Linked DNA regions of Homo sapiens. The protein of the gene in region 1 interacts with the protein of each later gene in a biochemical or structural test. Each region holds a gene or a part of one and is shown in the gene's direction. Other genes may lie near its edges.

What was found.
Region 2: the proteins of HDAC3 (region 1) and CCN5 form a complex in vitro, tested with the Homo sapiens proteins (one study listed by BioGRID).
Region 3: the proteins of HDAC3 (region 1) and NR2C1 form a complex in vitro, tested with the Homo sapiens proteins (4 studies listed by BioGRID).
Region 4: the proteins of HDAC3 (region 1) and GTF2I form a complex in vitro, tested with the Homo sapiens proteins (2 studies listed by BioGRID).

The regions. Positions count from the first base shown.
Region 1 is NC_000005.10:141,623,049-141,627,538, reverse strand, and holds part of HDAC3 (histone deacetylase 3), read left to right. Parts: intron 1-1,255; coding exon 1,256-1,345; intron 1,346-1,467; coding exon 1,468-1,526; intron 1,527-1,774; coding exon 1,775-1,854; intron 1,855-2,173; coding exon 2,174-2,331; coding exon of another isoform or gene 2,332-2,419; exon of another isoform or gene 2,420-2,677; intron 2,678-4,490. UniProt on the Homo sapiens protein: Histone deacetylase that catalyzes the deacetylation of lysine residues on the N-terminal part of the core histones (H2A, H2B, H3 and H4), and some other non-histone substrates.
Region 2 is NC_000020.11:44,713,402-44,718,168, forward strand, and holds the start of CCN5 (CCN family member 5 isoform 1 precursor), read left to right. Parts: upstream 1-1,967; 5' UTR 1,968-1,989; coding exon 1,990-2,049; intron 2,050-3,223; exon of another isoform or gene 3,224-3,392; intron 3,393-4,767.
Region 3 is NC_000012.12:95,070,819-95,075,548, reverse strand, and holds the start of NR2C1 (nuclear receptor subfamily 2 group C member 1), read left to right. Parts: upstream 1-1,930; 5' UTR 1,931-2,169; intron 2,170-4,730. UniProt on the Homo sapiens protein: Orphan nuclear receptor. Binds the IR7 element in the promoter of its own gene in an autoregulatory negative feedback mechanism. Primarily repressor of a broad range of genes.
Region 4 is NC_000007.14:74,754,590-74,758,717, forward strand, and holds part of GTF2I (general transcription factor II-I), read left to right. Parts: intron 1-919; coding exon 920-948; intron 949-2,230; coding exon 2,231-2,272; intron 2,273-3,369; coding exon 3,370-3,411; intron 3,412-4,128. UniProt on the Homo sapiens protein: Interacts with the basal transcription machinery by coordinating the formation of a multiprotein complex at the C-FOS promoter, and linking specific signal responsive activator complexes.

The DNA.
Region 1 (4,490 bases):
GGATACAATGGGGGACCTACTTGAGATAGCATGGTTTCGGAAAGTTTTTCTGAGGAAGTAAAATTTGAGTTGAGACCTGGAGACTAAGAAGGAGTGAGTCATAAGAGGAGCAGAGAGAAGCCTGACCCAAGCATGGACAAAGGCCCACAAAAGGCTCTGAGGGCTGGGCCCAGTGGCACACACCTATAATCCCAACACTTCCAGAGGCCAAGGTGGGAGAATCGCCTGAGGCTAGGAGTTTGAGGCCAGCCTGGGCAACATAGTGAGAGCCATCTCTACAGAAAATAAAAAACAAAATCAGCTGGGCATGATGGTGCATGCCTATAGTCCTAGCTACTCAGGAAGCTGAGGCAGGAGGATCACTTGAGCCTAGGAGTTTGAGGTTACAGTGAACTATGATTGTGCCACTGGACTTCAGTCTGTTGAGGTGAGGTCCGAGAAGCTGGCCATGGTGAGATTGTGCAGAGCCTTTAAACCCTGGTAAGGAGTTTGAATTATATTCCAAAGATGATGGGAAACCATTGAAGGATTTTAAGCAGGAAAGTGACATGATCCAATTTGTGTTTGAAAGTGACAATTCTGACTGCTGAATAGAGAAAGGTTTGGGTAGGGGGGATGGAGATGGAAGTAGAAAGACCAGTTAGGAAGCCATGGTGTTGGTTAGGTGCCCAGACTAAGGTGGAGGGGGTGGCAATGGAGAGAAGTAGATGATCTGAGAGGTGTGTGTGTGTGTGTGTGTATATATATATATATACACACACACACACACATATATATGTTTTTTTTTTTCTTTTTTGAGATGGAGTCTTGCTCTGTCACCCAGGCTGGAGTGCAGTGGCACGATCTTGGCTCAGTGCAAGCTCTGCCTCCTGGGTTCAAGCATTTCTCCTGCCTCAGCCTCCTGAGTAGCTGGGACTACTACAAAGGCGTGAGCACCGCGCCGGGCGTGAGTTATATTTTCAAGGCTAGAATTGACAGAACTTGGGTTGATGAGAATAGTTGATTAGCAGGCAGGGTGCCAGGGAGGGTGTTGAGCAGAACAGAGGGGGGACTGTGCTTTATTTTAAAATTTTTATTGAGACACAGCATATAAAGTATACCCAAATCTTAAGGGTATAACATAATGAATTTCACTATCAAGATAAAGATTTAGAACATTTATAGTTTTCTTGTGCTCCTTTCAGGCAATACCTAAAGGTATTTACCTTGTCTTTTGATAACCTCCTCCACATCTTCCTCTGGTTCCTTTTAACAGGGAATGCGTTGAATATGTCAAGAGCTTCAATATCCCTCTACTCGTGCTGGGTGGTGGTGGTTATACTGTCCGAAATGTTGCCCGCTGCTGGTGAGCACTCTCCTGATTTCCTCCCCTGTTGTCCAGTGTGAGCTAGGGTGTCCCTCAGATATGGCCACATGGGTCCTTCAGCCCACTTGGTCAGCCTGCTCCCCTCTGCTGGTTGGTTTCAGGACATATGAGACATCGCTGCTGGTAGAAGAGGCCATTAGTGAGGAGCTTCCCTATAGTGGTAAGGACCACCCCACAACACCCCCATAACAGGAAGGCCATTCTCACCAGATTCCAGAATGACCTGGTTTGAAGGCACATGGGAAATTTTACACTCTCAGAGCTCTGCAGACTAAACCCCTGGGCTCAGAGCAGGGAAGAGATTGGGCAGCTATTATGTAGGTGCTCTGGATGGGAAGGAAAAAGATTGGGAAGTCTTGTTAGCTGCCTTTCTCAGTCTGAGCCATACTTTCTCCTCTCCTCCCCAAGAATACTTCGAGTACTTTGCCCCAGACTTCACACTTCATCCAGATGTCAGCACCCGCATCGAGAATCAGAACTCACGCCAGGTCAGCAGCTCAGAAAAGCTGAGCACAAACTTCTCCTGAAAGGTGGAGCCCAGGAGAGGTCAAAGATGTGGGAAGTAGGAAAAACCAAAGAGAAGGAAGTTCTAAGCCATCACAGTCACTGTTATTGACTAGGAGGCAGTCCAGTTTAAAGTAGAGGCAGTTGGGGTTGGTGGGGAGGGAGAGCTATCAGTTGGGGGACCTGAACTAGAGGTACCACTGAGATGAAAACCAGTATGGTAGGGGTAAAAGGCAGCTAGGAGATTCCATGTCCTGGGAATCTCTGGAAACTGCTCACTCTGTATTCCTCATTTCCAACCAGTATCTGGACCAGATCCGCCAGACAATCTTTGAAAACCTGAAGATGCTGAACCATGCACCTAGTGTCCAGATTCATGACGTGCCTGCAGACCTCCTGACCTATGACAGGACTGATGAGGCTGATGCAGAGGAGAGGGGTCCTGAGGAGAACTATAGCAGGTCTGGGAGCAGGGACTTCAGCCTACTTTCAATAGGCTTGCTGGGGAGGTTTAAAAGGGAAAAAGTAAATGGGAAGGTATTAGTTTAATTGCCTCTGGCTTACCTCCTTTAGTCTGCTACAATTTCCTCACTCTTTTCTTTGTTATTTTTAATGACAAAAGTAACACGTATTTATTGCAAAATTTTAAAACAGCACCAAAATATGGTGTTGGCGTTCACACAATCCCAGACCTATTCCACAGGAGTAACCACTGTTAATAGTTTTTATTGTTTTGGATAGACCTTTTTCTATAGATTGCAAATATACTATTCTGTATGTACATATAAACAAACACATATACACTCATTTACAGTTTGTGTGGTTTTTGGTTTTTCGTAAATACAAATAGGGTCATTCTACGTATGCTGCTTTACATCATATAGCTGTTTTCAGCTAGCTAATATAGATCTGCTTCAGTATTTTATCAGCTGTATAATAATTTACTATGTGGATAGATTATTTTCCATTTTTTTGGTATTACAATAATAATGTGGCAATGAACCCCCTTACATTATACATCTTTGCATTCTTGTTTGAGTGGGTTAGATAGTAGAATGGTTGCTGCTAGGTCAAAGGCTGTGTGCATTAATTTTTTTTTTTTTTTTTTTTTTGAGACAGGGTCTCATTCTGTCACCCAGGCTGGAGTACAGTGGCATGATTATAGCTCACTGCAATCTTGAACTCCTGGGTTCAAGCGATCCTCCTGCCTCAGCCCCTCGAGTAGCTGGAATCATAGGTGTGCACCACGACACCTGGCTAATTTTTTTTTTTTTTTTTTTTTTTTTTTTTTTTTTTGGTAGAGACGGAGTCTTGCCTTGTTGCCCAGGCTGGTCTCAAACTCCTGGGCTCAAATGTCCTCCTGCCCCAGCCTTCCAAAGTGCTGGGATTATAGGCGTGAGCCACTGAGCCTGGCCTAAAATTTTTTATATTTGCTGCCAAATTGCCGTCCAGAAAGTCTGTAGCACCCTATAGTCTTGCCAGCATTTTTCTCAGTCTTTCCAGGTCTTGAGCTGGACAGGTCACTGCCTGCGTAATACTCTCTAAGGCTCTTTGATTTCTTTGCTCTGTTAATTTTTTCGGGTGGGATAATTGCATTGTGGTTATGTTTTTTTTTTTTTTTTAAAAGTCTTTATCTTTCTGAGATACATACAAAATATTTGTAGATGGAATGAATTAGGGGGGAAAAAGGATAGGATGGAATTTTTTTTTAATCCCAAAACTTTGCTGAAAAATGAAAGGGAAAGACAACAGAACCAAGAAGTGCAGAAACAGATGCACTTAATGGGGAACAGATTTCCTTACATGACTGAGGGATAACCACAGCTGGACACTTGTGGGACACGCTGTCTTGCTCCCACGCAGGGTTAGAGGTTTGAGCCGGCTCTGCTGCAGAGCCTGATGGGCTTCTCAGCCCCTTCTAGAATCTGCTTCTGTCTTAGAATTCAGGCCTCCGAATCTCTCCTCTGGACCTGGGCTTTACTGCTCTGACTCTTGGGGATCTCTGCAACTCTCTTCCTCCAAGGATATCCCCCGATCCCTTCTGAGTGAGGAAGTGTCTGAACATCTGGAAGTGTCTGGCTTCAGGGCTTCCAGGACTATTGGAAATTGCTTTTCATTGTCTGGTTTGGTTTGGTAAAACCTGTTTTTAAGTTCTTCCTTTTGGGTTTTTTATCAATAGCTCCAGGCTGGCATCTGGACCTAGTCTCTGCATTATAATAATACCAAGCCCTGTCACAGCCAGCAGAAGCCTCAGGCCTCTTCCTGTTCCTAAGCCCTACCTCTCTGTCAGGCCACCCACTGAGTTTCTGTTCTTCTTTGATGCCTATAGCTCCAGCTTGCATATGACTTGCAGAGTAGAAATAGGAAGAGTTACCACTTTTTGTAGGTTTGCCAAGCACCAGACACTACTAAGTGCTATCTATTACAACATATATATGATCATTCTGTTGCCATCAGACAACTCTGATGGCTCTTATTTTCAGATTAACACGGGAGGAATCTAAGGCTCAGAGAGTCTAAGTAACTTTCTTTCTTTCTTTTTTTTGAGACGGAGTTTCGCTCTTTTTGCCCAGGCTGGAGTGCAATGGCATGATCTCAGCTCACCACAACCTCTGCCTCC
Region 2 (4,767 bases), on another chromosome or scaffold:
TCCTGATCTCAGGTGGTTCTCCCACTTTGGCCTCCCAAATTACAGACGTGAGCCACCGGCCCAGCTGTATTTCTGTGTTTAAACAGTAGAGTGAAATCAACTATGAACGCAGAATGATGGGAAAGATGACGATAAGGGTATTTCAATTTTGTCATTTTACGAAACTACTTGGAGTTTTGATTTGTATTTACAGTTTTTAAAAGAGTAAAACAGTGTGAACTGTGAATGGTAATGATTTTGTTTGGTAAGTGCAAATTTTAATTCATACATGAAAAATATTTGTTTTGTTTCATGATTATTACTGAAAATAATTTTGTACTATGAAGGAAGAGGGGTGTTAAAAATGATCCACTGTGGATGTAAATTATTCTAGGCATGCTTCTGACTAAAACATTAGCATTTCCACAAGAATCCCAAAAAATAAAACAAAATTTAAAAGATCCCTTCTGTTTCTTTTCCTCCAAGTTTCCAGACCCCCATCTCCACCCTGGCCACCTCTTCCTGCCATAAATAATCAAATCCCACACTTTCATCTTCACCTTCCGTTTCCATTGCCTCTTCCGATGGGACAGCACCCGTGGGGAATCTCCTCCATGCTCACAATCCCCGTCTTGCCACTATATCAAGTCACACTTCTTCCTCACCAATCGCCCATTCTGGAACCTCTGCTATCCAGCTAGATCACTTTGAGGTTTGGACAACTACTGGTGGAGGTAATGGGGGCCCCAGACAGCCCTTGACATCACCTCTTTTATCTTTGCCAAATTCTACAAACAAAGCCCATGTCTTTCTGTCCCCCGCCCCCATGGCTGGCACATAGTAGATGTCCCCAAATCTTGGTGATGTGAACTTGTGTGTCTCACCCTTCACAGACATCACCATTTCCCGTTGCACAGAAGGCTCCACTCATACCAGGCGCTTTGGCTCCCAGAATAAGCAGGCTATCATGCTATGTCCGACATCTAGGCGTTGGTACGTACTGTTCCCTTGGCCTGGAACATTCTGCCCTCTCTCACCCTCTCTTTTCTTGGCTTTCTGAAATGGCACCTCCATCAGAAAGTGTCCCTCACTCTTGGTCTGAGCAAGGGACCTTGCCTGGTATTCCTGAACTTCCACCTGTTTTCCCTCTGTTTTCTCCCTCTCTGGGCCTTGTCCTCAGGTCAGTGTTGTGCCTCCAGCTCCTGCAGAGGCGAACTCAGAGGCGGCCGAATGAAACCAAATGGATTTGGCTTGACCCCATCATCTAGCGGTGCCCAGCAAGCGCTGGCACATAGTAGGTCCAGCCTGCCCGGACTCGCCCACCACGGGCCCCCTTCCAGAGCCGGGAGGCAGGCCAAGGGAGGCCCCTTATTGCCAAGAGCAAACAGGCCGCCCAGGGAAGTTTTGCTCTGGGTCACACCCACCTCTGGGTGGCTGCCAATCTGCCTGCCAGAAACCGCAGGCTGGGCCGCGGCTACCCAGAGTCAGGGCCACGGAGCTTAGGAGACCTTGGGTCAGCTCTGCAAAGGGGTTGTTTACTGAATGCTTCTGGTATCTGCAGCCCCGCTGGGGTTCGGACAGGGGGTCTGGAATAGGGCTTCACAACTACAGCAGGGCTAGGACCCTCTTGGGCTGGAAGGAGCTGGAGAGGCCTCTGCAAGCTGTCACAGGCTCTTGGTGCTGGCACTGGCTCAGGCTTTCACACACACACACGCGCACACACACACACACACACACACGGACAGGCACCCCCTTGGTGGCCTTCACAGTTTCACCTTCAGGTAAATGGGCTCATCCTTTGAGCCATGAGGATGGGAAGCGAAGCAAGGAATGAAAAAGCTAGTGTGTTTGTGTGTGTGTGTGTGTGTGTGTGTGTGTGTGAGCGCGCGCGCGCGCGCGCGTGTGTACTCGTGCGTGTGCCTGTGTGTGCCTGGGAGTGACCTCACAGCTGCCGGAACATAAAGACTCACAGGTCCGCCTCCCAGGCTCAAAGCTGGCTCTGCAGGGGACATGAGAGGCACACCGAAGACCCACCTCCTGGCCTTCTCCCTCCTCTGCCTCCTCTCAAAGGTAAGGAGGCCCGGGCCCTGGAATGCACTGCTGACTATTTGGGTGTGGAGGGGGTGGGGATGTAAAATCGCAGCCAAGGACCCCCTTGGCAGAATTCCTCCAGGGCCCCACATTGGGCACAGTCTGGCCCCCATGCCTAAGCAGGGCTTCTCTCCCTGGAACTCAGAGCTGCCTCCGGCCAGCCCTGCTGTGTGACCTCAGATATGTGTCTTGCCTTCTCTGGGCCTCAGCATCTTCCCAGGTGAAGGGTATACAGTTTGTGAGGCCTCTGTGAAGACCATTCATGATCATTCATCAAACTTACCAGGCAAATTGAAGAGGACTTTAATGTATCCTCATTATGAATGGGGGCACTCAAGACATGACATGCTTGGCCTAACTCTGAGCCAGCATTTGGATGGATGCCTAGCTGATTGGAAGGTTCATTCTGCAAGGGCATCAATGCTGTTGGACTCTTAGGCAGTGAGTGACCCGCCCGCCCTAGCTAGAGGGGAACAGGAGACACCTCTGTGGAGTAATGGCCTTATCCCTGAATGCTGCATGGGACATTCACCAAAGAGCCTGTGGGACATCTACCTTGTCTAACATGCACAACAATCCCATAAGGAATTTTCAGTTAAGTGAGGCTCAGAAAGGGTAAGCAACTTGCAACCCCAGTTTTCAGTCAAGTGAGGCTCAGAAAGGGTAAGCAACTTGCCCAAAGCCACACAGCAAAGAAAGGTCAGAGCAATAGAGGAGAGCCATGGTGGAGCCCAGAATGACATGGATGTAGGGGGAGAAGCACTCCAGTCTGTGCCTCCCCAAGCCCAAACTGGACCAAGGCCACAGCTGCTAAGCCTTGTCATCCCCTCGGCAAATGCTGAGTTCCCAGAGCCATGGAATCGGCCCCACCACAAGCCACGATCTCACTGTATTTTCACGCTCCTTTGAGGAGCACGGGCAGGAGCTTCTCTCCCTCAGGCTCCAAGTCTTCGTGCCTGGGAAGCCTGAGAACCACGCTGGCATCCTGTCCTGCTGTTTGTTCTTCCAAAGGGGATGGGTAGGGCATGATGCCAGTGTGGGTGGCTTGGGTAGTTGGAATAGGGGACTTGGGGCTCTAGGAGGGAGAAGGGGCCCAGGATTATACGAGAACAAAGTAAAGCTGTCCTAGACTTGCCATTAGGGTGAGACTTACGGGACCATTCTTCCCTGGTCCCAGGAAGCAGGGACTGCACAGAAACACAGGGACTTAGTCACCACAACATGGAAAGCCACAGCAACCCTCAGAGGGAGAACTGTAAGTCTTCCAGGCTGGCCGTTGGCTCCGGGGCTCCTGGCTGTGGACCGGGGCAGGAGGCAGACACCTGGACACAAGCAAAATCACATTGATCAAGGACTGGCCAGAACCTCATTTAATCTCCATCATCACTCAGAAACAGGTTGTCTCTACTCCAGTTTACAGAGGAGAAAACTGAGCTTCACCTCCACCTTCCAAAGCCGTTTGTCCACATGTTCAGTCACGTAGCAAGTCACTGGCAGAACTTGAATCTCAACTCTTGCCCAAAAAACTCCATGCCCAGTACTCCTGCCCCAGATATCATGAGCCTTGCCCCCCACCACCAGATATCACAGCAAGGCCCTGGGGAAACTGAGGCACAATGGGACAACTTGAGTTTGGGCCTTGGATGTCAACTTGAACTTGGATGTCAATCCTGATTCTGTCTCTTACTGGCTGTGTTACTACACGGTTTGAGCTCCAGTTTTCTCATCTTTAAAATGGGCATAATGATGGCACCTCACATTGGAGGGGTAAATGAGACAACAGCACTTGGCACATGACATACATATGGTATCACATGAGATAATTGTACACTAGAATAGTTGATATCATTAATAGCCTCTCCTGGGTATCGGGGCCTACAGAGTCCTGCCCCCTGACAAGCATGGCCAGTAGAGGGGTCCACAGTGGGAGCCAAGGTGCACAGCTGCTGGTCTATTTCCTGGCACTCCTGTTTTCAGGTGGGAGGGACCTGAGAGTCATTTCTGACAGTCCTCCCTCCATTGCCCACAAGCCAAGGGAGCTGAACCTCTGACTTAGAAGGGAACCCAAAAGCCTAGACCGTTTCTATGTGAATCACCTGTGGATTTATGAAAATGCAGATTCGGGCTGGGCGTGGTGGCTCATGCCTGTAATCCCAGCACTTTGGGAGGCCGAGGTGGGTGGATCATGAGGTCAGGAGTTTGAGACCAGCCTGGCCAGCATGGTGAAACCCCGTCTCTACTAAAAATACAAAAAATTAGCTGGGCATGGTGGCATGCACCTGTAATCCTAGCTACTTGGGAGGCTGAGGCCTCCCAAGAATTGCTTGAACCTGGGAGGCGAAGGTTGCAGTGAGTCGAGATCGTGCCACTGCACTCCAGCCTAGGTGACAGAGCAAGACTCCATCTCAAAAAAGAAAAAAAAAAAAAAGAAAGAAAAAGAAAAGAAAATGCAGATTCGGATTTATTATATAAAAATTCAGCTTCGGATTTATAGAGGGGCTCCAGATGCTGCCTCTCTGACAAGCTCCTAGATGACGCTGCTGCTGCTAGTTCAGACCACACCTTGAGGGGCGAGGCTAGGCCATCGTCTCTAGAATCTGAACAGCCTGCAGCGATGGGATCCACTCCCTTGTGAGGCAGCCAGACACCTAGCTCCGTGTGTCCATCTGCTACTCAGTGCTGTCTCAGTGGGGGCTG
Region 3 (4,730 bases), on another chromosome or scaffold:
TGAGAGTAAAATGAAATTGCCTAAGGACTCATTTCTCAGAACATATCCCTGACGTGACTATACTTTCATAATTTTCACCTTTGGGACCAGCTTATGGTATTGGCAGGGGTCTCCCTTAAAACCAAACCAAATACACAACAAATAATGCTAAAAGGTAGAGGTTGGAAAAAAAAAAAAGTTTCACTCTCGCCCAGGCTGGAATGCAATGGTGCCAACACTGGACCAGACTCCTGGGCTTAAGCAATCCTCCCACCTCAGCCTCCTCAGTAACTAGGAATACAGGCCTGCACCACCATGCCTTTTTTTTTTCTTTTTTTTTTAAGAGATGGAGTCTCACTATGTTGCCCAGGCTGGTCTCAAACTCCTGGCATCAAGCAAGCCTCCTACCTCAGCCTCCCAAGGCTCTGGGGGCAGAAGCCACTGTGCTCAGCAGAGGTGGATTTTTAATGAGGGATAAAGCATATTTTTACTTGTTAGGGATTGTTTCATGCCTTGATCTCTGTCCGTCTGCCTAGTTCCAGAGAGAAATAACAGAGATGTTCTCATTCCCAGCAAACGTTTGTTTTTCCTTCCTTGGATTTCTGCCCTGAGTTTGTGGCTGCTTTCCTACAGTGCCGACCTAAGCTAGATAAAATAGAAATTTCATGACAAAACAAAGGAGATTTAAAAAAAAACTAGAAATTTCAAGAATGCTTCAAAATCTAAAGCGCAGAGTACTTTGCACACAGGGCAGTTATTCCTGCCACACCTTGCCACTACAGGTGGCCACTGTCAGAATGCGATGTTCCACCAATGTCTCTTCATTTCACAATTTGAAAAATTTTTTTTGTGGAGGCAGGGTTTTGTTATCTTGCCCAAGCCGGTCTCCAACTGCTGGCCCCAAGTGATCTTTCCTTGGCCTCCCAGCAGCCACTTGCCTGGCTTTCATTTCATACATCATTATTGAATAGCAGGCATTGTCCTATGTGCTTGGTAATACATCACTGAGCAAAACAGACAAAAAACGGCCATTGAGGATAATCCTCAATATATAATAATATATATATTATAGAGAGGATGTGGAATATACATATATATGTGTGTGTGTATATATAGAGAGAGAGAGAAAGACTCATTGTGTCACCCAGGCTGGAGTGCGGTGGTGTGATCTTGGCTCACTGCCGTCTTGACTCAGGTGATCCTCCCACCTCAGCCTCCAAGTAATTGGGACGACAGGCACGCGCCACCAGGACTGGCTAATTTTTTTGTAGAGACGGGTTTTCGCCATGTTGGCCAGGCTGGCCTCAAACAACCGGGCTCAAGTGATCCGTCCGCCTCGGCCTCCCAACTTGCTGGGATTACAGGCGTGAGCTACCGTGCCCAGTCTCTAGTGATTATATTCTTGCCCTGTTTAGCCATTATGTCTCTTTACTCACAACAGTTTATAAGTGAAACTTTGCCTTACCATTTGCATGAGTCGGCCTCAGCTTGTCATTATATATAAAGCTTACTAATGTAAATGACGAGTTAATGGGTGCAGCACACCAACATGGCACATGTATACATATGTAACGAACCTGCACGTTGTGTACATGTACTCTAGAACTTAAAGTGTAATACAAAAAAAAAAAAGTTTAAATATGATTGGACTCTACCCCAGAGCCCAGTTTTCCAGAAATTAGAAACAGATATGCCTAAGACCCAGAGGGTTATTTATTACTCAAATCTAAAACGTTGACTCAAAACCTCCCCTAATGCCCACCTTTGGCAAACGATGCTTAAACCTTTGCACGTGGCTTCAAAAATTACCTGGCTGGGAACGCGTAGCTCTGGCGGGGCACTCTGCCTCCAAGCCAAAAGGGGGCAGTGGACTCACAGAGCCGCTGCTCGGCCCTCCGATCCCTCCACCCCACCCTGGGAACGTCACGACCTCCTCTCGCCGCTTCTCCCCGTTGCTAATGCGCAGGCGCTGGCGGGATAGCGCGCCGCCGAGCCGAGAAAGAGGTCACGAACTCTGACCCCCCAGAAATACCCAAACACAGAAAGCTCTCTCCGCCGTGAATCTCGATCCCACATCCCGTCGGCTTTCTTCAACCTCTCTTCCCGGAGCGCCCCCCAATCCACGAGTGGCAGCCGCGGGACTGTCGCGTCGGCGCCCGACGCCGGAGTCAGCAGGGCGCAAAAGCGCCGGTAAGAAACGCTGGGTGGGGACACCAGCGACCGCGTCGGGGGCGGGGGCCAGGGGGTGCCCTTCACCCCAACCGCCAACGGACGCGGTCCCAGCGCATCCCCCGGCCGGCGTCCTGCGGCCAGCGGAGCCGTTCAGTTTGGGAGCGCCGCTTGGGGCTGCTCGACTTCGGCTGGGAGCGCGGAGCTGCGGCGCCAAATGCGCGGGGCCCCGGGAGAGGCGGGGGCGACAGGGGCGGCGGGACGCGGGGCCGGACGGCGAGCGGCTTGGAGCACACAACCCCCTTTCCAGCTGCGCTTACCGCAGCGCCTCTGACCTTTAACCTGCAGGGAAAGCTTCCGCGGCGCTGCAGCTTTCCCCGCCCGGGAGAGCCGCGCGCAGCGCCGGGGCTTCCAGGGCGCACGGCTAACGCCGGCACGAGTGAGACGTGGGAGAGGCCGACCCTCGGCTAGTGGCCGCAAGTCCCGGCCTGCATCCCGTCACTAACTCCCGTGCTTTCACGGGACGGACAGAATGACTCCCCCCACTTTCACTTTTCTCTCACGGCAAATCTGGCCAGGGTCGTCGCTGCCTGTGGGCCTGGATCTTTTCAGAAGAAATGGAACGGCCCCAGGGTTCTCACTGCAGGGGGCATGTCCAAGCTTCCGATAGATAGCTCTTTTGTTAAGAAATAATTCTTCCAACTCGGGCAGATACCATTTTTGTGCAGTACGAATGTTGCCAGGTTGTCCCATAATCTTCAGTAAGTAGGTCAGCCTTTAAAAAAGTAACCGGAAAGCAAAAGCAGAAAGACCTAAAATTACGGCCTTTAGGGTTTAGTACCGCTAGAATTTGTAAATGGACCTTCGATTTTGAGCTTTTTTGAACCATTTCTGCTGTGTGGTTGGTGATACTCGATTTTTTTTTCTTTTTTTTTTTTTTTTTTTGAGAGGGAGAGGGAGTCTCACTGTCGCCAAGCTGGAGTGCGGTGGCGCGATCTCGGCTCACTGCAACCTCCGCCTCCAGGTTCAAGCGATTCTCCTGTCTCAGCCTCCCGAGTAGCTGGGATTACAGACACGAGCCACCACACCCAGCTAGTTTTTTTGTTTTTGTTTTTGTTTTTGTTTTTTGTATTTTTAGTAGAGGTGGGGTTTCACTATGTTGGCCAGGATGGTCTTGATACTCTGACCTCGTGATGTACCCGCCTCTGATCCACCCGCCTCGGCCTCCCAAAGTACTGGGATTACAGGCGTGAGCCACCGCGCCCGGCCGATGATTGTTTTTAAACTTTGCTTTAAGTCCAGTTAGTATATCTGAAAAAGCGATGTGTATTTCTATCATTAAAAGTGGGTCGCGGCTGGGCGCGGTGGCTCACACCTGTAATCCCAGCACTTTGGGAGGCTGAGGTGGGCGGATCATCTGAAGTCGGGAGTTCGAGACCAGCCTGACCAACATGGAGAAACCCCGTTTCTACTAAAAATACAAAATTAGTCGGGCGTGGTGGCGCACACCTGTAATCCCAGCAACTCCGGAGGCCGAGGCAGGAGAATTGCTTGAACCCGGGAGGCGGAGGTTGCAGTGAGCTGAGATCGCGCCATTGCACTCCAGCCTGGGCAAGAAGAGCGAAACTCCGTCTCAAAAAAAAAAAAAAAAGTGGGTTTTATGAAATGTTGCTAATCTTAGTTTTTCAAGGGGCATGTTAGTTTCTTCTAGGAAAGGTTTTTTTGTTTTGTTTTATAGAAATGGTGGGGGGCCTCATTTTGTTATCCAGACAGATCTCTGGCCTCAAGCTATCCTCCTGCCTCAGCCTGTTGAGTAGCTGGAATTACAGGCACCGCATCTTAAGGAAGGATTTTGAGGGAGCAAACATCCCCAAACACACACCGTCTGTGTGTCTGCCACACAATGTATAATCCCTACTCTTGGGGAATAAAAACAAAACAGCATACAATAAATAATAGTATAAATATAATTCGTTGCCGTTTTTCAGTGACAAGACCATCTACAGCCTCTTGAAGTCTTTTATGAACTTGTCTAGAAAAATGCACCTTTAGATAAAATTTTACAGACAGTATTAGGAGTTAACAGAAATCTATTTCTGAATCCTAGCTAACAACCTTAGTCTACAAAATAATTGTTCGACCCTTCAAGAAAGACTGGGTAAAAAACTATTTGAATCAAAATTTTTTTTTTTTTTTTTTGAGACGGAGTTTTGCCCTTGTTTCCCAAGCTGGAGTGCAATGGCACGATCTCGGCTCACTGCAGCCTCCACCTCCCAGGTTCAAGCGATTCTCTTGCCTCAGCCTCCTGCATAGCTGGGATCACAGGCGCCGTCCACCACACCCGGCTAAATTTTTGTATTTTTCGTAGAGATGGGGTTTCACCATGTTGGCCAGGCTGGTCTTGGACTCTTGACCTCAGGTGATCCACGTGCCTTGGCCTCCCAAAGTGCTGGGATTACAGGCGTGAGCCATCGCCCCTGGCTTGAACCAAATCTTAAAAGTCAGGTGGAATTTAAATGAGGGAGAAAGTAGGAATATGTTGGGGGAATAAAGAACATCGTAGTTTGACCTGAACAGAGGCC
Region 4 (4,128 bases), on another chromosome or scaffold:
GGGAGGCTGAGGCAGGATAGTCGCTTGAACCCAGGAGGTGGAGGTTGCAATGAGCCAAGATCATGCCACTGCACTCCAGCCTGGACGACAGAGTGAGACTCCATCACAAGAAAAAAAGAACTTTGTCAACCTCTGTCTTAGGGCGCCTTGTCACAGGCTTCGGGTCAGACGGATTCAACCTTGCATCAGCCATTTGTTAGCCAGGTCACTCTGTTCTTTGTCTGTAAATGAGATTGATCGTTGTTCCCACTGAGAGTGTCAGCTCCTTCCCGTAGAGCAGGCATGATGATTGTACTCACCTCTGACACCATTGTGAGTGCCACATTCCTTCCCACGTCCTTGTCACTGTAAGAGATGCCCACCTGAGCACCAACCCCAGGTTATCTTCCCCTTTGTCTTCCAGCCCCCCAGAAACAGCTACGACTCAACCTACCCAATCATTTCATCATCAGATTGCCACTGTCTCTAGTTCAGGTCTCTTGGAACTGGCACTCAGAAATCTCATAATAAATCCTCTTGAGGCTTCTCATACACTCGTCTTCTTCCAATCTTCTTTCCCTCAAAATCTCATATTTTGGTTCCACTTCACCCACCGTCATTCTCCATATCACTCCCAGGAGTTAGGCAAAAAGCCCCTTCCGTTCTTCCGTATGTTAAACTTAGAATCACTCTGTTCCCTGCTCTGCGTTTCTATTTTTTGTTTTTCCTCCATTTACTAGTAGCTTAACACTTTCTAACAGTGTTCTTATTATTGATACGTATCTATCTCTTCCATAAGCTTATAAGGTCACGGATAATACTTCTCATTGTAGTACGTAAATGACGTGGGCTAGATATGAGTTGAATAAACAGTTATACCTGTAAATTCTTACAGAGTGAAAATAAATTGTTATACTTTACAATTTGTTTCTCTCTTTAGACCATTTCCAGGACTTGTGATTAATAACCGTGAGTATTTTGTGAAGTGTTTTGTTTTTGTTTTTTCCTGGGGTCTGACGTGTGTGCGTGTGAGTGTGTATACATGCTTAACGTATATCACGTTACTTCACCTATGTCAGTAACCAGGCCAAATACTTGTTTTAGCCCTCAGTAAAAACACCAGGCACTTCCTAGTTGTAAAATTATTCAAGCTTCTTAACTTCCTATCCTCGATGCACTTAATCATAAAATGGTAATAATAGCACCGATTTTGGGGGAGTCGTTCCAGTAGATGGAAAGCATCTGGAACAGGTGTCAGCAAGCTCCTGCCGACGTGTATGCATAAAGTTTTATTGAAACCACCATCGTGTCCATTTGTTTATGGCAGAACTGAGAGATGGCAGCAGCAAGTGTGTGCCTGCAAAACCTAAAATATTTACTAATTGGCTCTGCAAGAAAAGAGTTTGCATCCCCCTAACCTAGAACAGTGTCTAGCCTCTAGTATGTGTTTAGCCTACAGTATGTGCTCAGCGAATACAATCTATATTTATTACTGCTTTTATGACTGTTATAATTACTGTGCTTGGATTTCGTTACAAAGTAAGTCACAATGTGCCTGCTTCTGTTAGTATTTCAGCACAGTGCCTGGCACACATGGGGCTCTCAAATATTGCTGAGCGAGTGAACAAATGTCCTTTCAATTCCTTAACGTTGATGTCATTTTCAATAGTATTTTGAGCCAAACTTAATTTTGCGAGTGTGTTTTGTTTTCTTAACTTTATTATTAAAAATGTATAAAAGTGAGGCCAGGCGTGGTGGCTCACGCCTGTAATCCCAGCAGTTTGGGAGGCTGAGGCAGGCGGATCAGTTGAGGTTGGGAGTTGGAGACCAGCCCGTCCAACATGGTGAAAGCCTGTCTCTACTAAAAATACAAAAATCAGCTGGGTGTGGTGGCACGTGCCTGTAATCCCAGCTACTCAGGAGGCTGAGGCAGGAGAGTTGCTTGAATCCTAGAGGTGGAGGTTGCAGTGAGCTGAGATCGTGCCATTGCACTCCAGCCTGGGCAACAAGAGCAAAACTCTGTCCCAATAAATAAATAAATAAAATGTTCTCTTTTGTTCCTGTTCTTGTGCGGTAGTGTGGTATAGAGTTTTATGGTAATTACTGTGAATTAGTGATTCTGAGGGACATATCAGAACTCTGAGGTTTGTTTCCTTCTCATCTTGAGGGAAACAGCAAATGTATGTTAAAATGCTTTTCCAAGGGAACAACACATCCTTACATTATTTAAACCAATCTGCTTCATTTTCAGAGCTGGTTGATCAGAGTGAGTCAGAAGGCCCCGTGATACAAGGTGAGCGAGGCAGGGGAGGGCCCGGAGCTACTCCTGCCTGCACAGTGGCACAATGGCGTGCCTGCGTGTGGCTTTGGCTCTCAGTCACCTGCCCTGAGGGGACTCAGTTACACAGCACACACATGCTTCTCTGTGGTTTTCACTCCTGGGTTTGACAGCTGATCAAAACATAAATTCAAGCTGTGGGTCCTGATTGAGAACTGGGGGCTGCAGACCATTTGCACCCCCTATCCCAGCTCAGGCCTAACATCAGGAACCCCAGGATTAATGGGTAGGATGAAATGGCAGAGCAAGAGGGCCGTCACTTTAACCTGACTCTGCCATCCATTTCTAATGTCTGCCATAAGTCAGTGAGCAAAATGTTCTTCAGTAGAAATGTACACATTGTGCTCTTAAAAAATTCCTTAAAAAACAAGTGGAATGGCCTGGTGCTGTGTGAGTCATTGAAAGTAATGAGACTGGGCGCGGTGGCTCACGCCTGTTATCCCAGCACTTTGGAAGGCTGAGAAGGGTAGATCACTTGAGATCAGGAGTTCGAGACCAGCCTGGCCAACATGGTGCAACCCCGTCTCTACTAAGAATACAAAAACTAGCCAGACGTGGTGGCGTGTGCCGGCTACTCAGGAGGCTGAGGCAGGAGAACCGCTTGAGCCTGGGAGGCGGAGGTCGCAGTGAGCCAAGATCGTGCCACTGCACTCCAGCCTGGGCAACAGAAAGGAGATTCTGTCTCAAAAAAACAAACATACGAAGAAAAACAAAAAAAGTAATGAAAAGCTTTTATTAAAGGGAGTAAACAGAAGGATAAGGGAGAAAGCATAACTAAGGAGCTTGTTTTCATGGTAGAGCTATGTTAAGACTCTGCTCTTTCAAACTTCAGTTGCATATGTGAACTTAGGACCACATTTGAAAAACAGAAATTTGAAAGTACACTTGGATAATCGTGTGCTCCATCTCAAGACCGTGAGCATTGTTTCATCATGCACCTGTGTTTGTACAGAGTCTAGAGGGCTTTTCTCCTCTTCCTCCTCCTGGGTTCTTTACATAGTATAAAGCAGCTGTTGAACAATGTGGAAATCAGTCTCTGTGTTTCTCTTTAGAATCAGCTGAACCAAGCCAGTTGGAAGTTCCAGCCACAGAAGGTAAAAGGGTGGGGTGGTCCTGCAAGTCCTTAAGACTTCTTCTTTCTTCTTCTTCTTTTTTTTTTTTTTAAAGACAGAGACTTGCTCTGTCACCCAGGGTGGAGTGAGGTTGCGCGATCTCTGCAACCTCCGCCTCCCGGGCTCAAGCAGTTCTCCTGCCTCAGCCTCCCGAGTAGCTGGGATTACAGGCCTGCACCACCATGCTTGGCTAATTTTTGTATTTTTAGTAGAAACGGGGTTTCACCATGTTGGCCAGGCTAGTCTCAGACTTCTGACCTCAAGTGATCCGCCAGCCTTGGCCTCCAAAGTGCTCGGATTACAGGCGCGAGCCACCTTGCCCAGCCAAGACTTTTTTATCAGGACAAAGGATTGTGCATTTAAACTATTTCACTAGAACTGGGTGGTGGTTTTGCTCTCTTTCTTCTGGGTGAATTGGATTTGCAGGTTATGCTGTTGAGTGATGACGCATAGCTGCTTTTGCTCCATTTCCCCCAGATGACTTGGTAAATTCTCCGTGAATGACTCTGCTACATAACCTAGATAACCTAACGTGTGTCCTTTAAATGCATGTAAGCCAGAAGATGTATGTTACTTTGAAAACATAAGTAACAAAATTTTGAATGTATTGCTAAAGAGATGTCTCTCTGAAGCTCTTTTGATGTTTGGTGTCTTGTCCTTCTTATTAAACCATATCTTAGTAAATAGTTTGGTACGAAT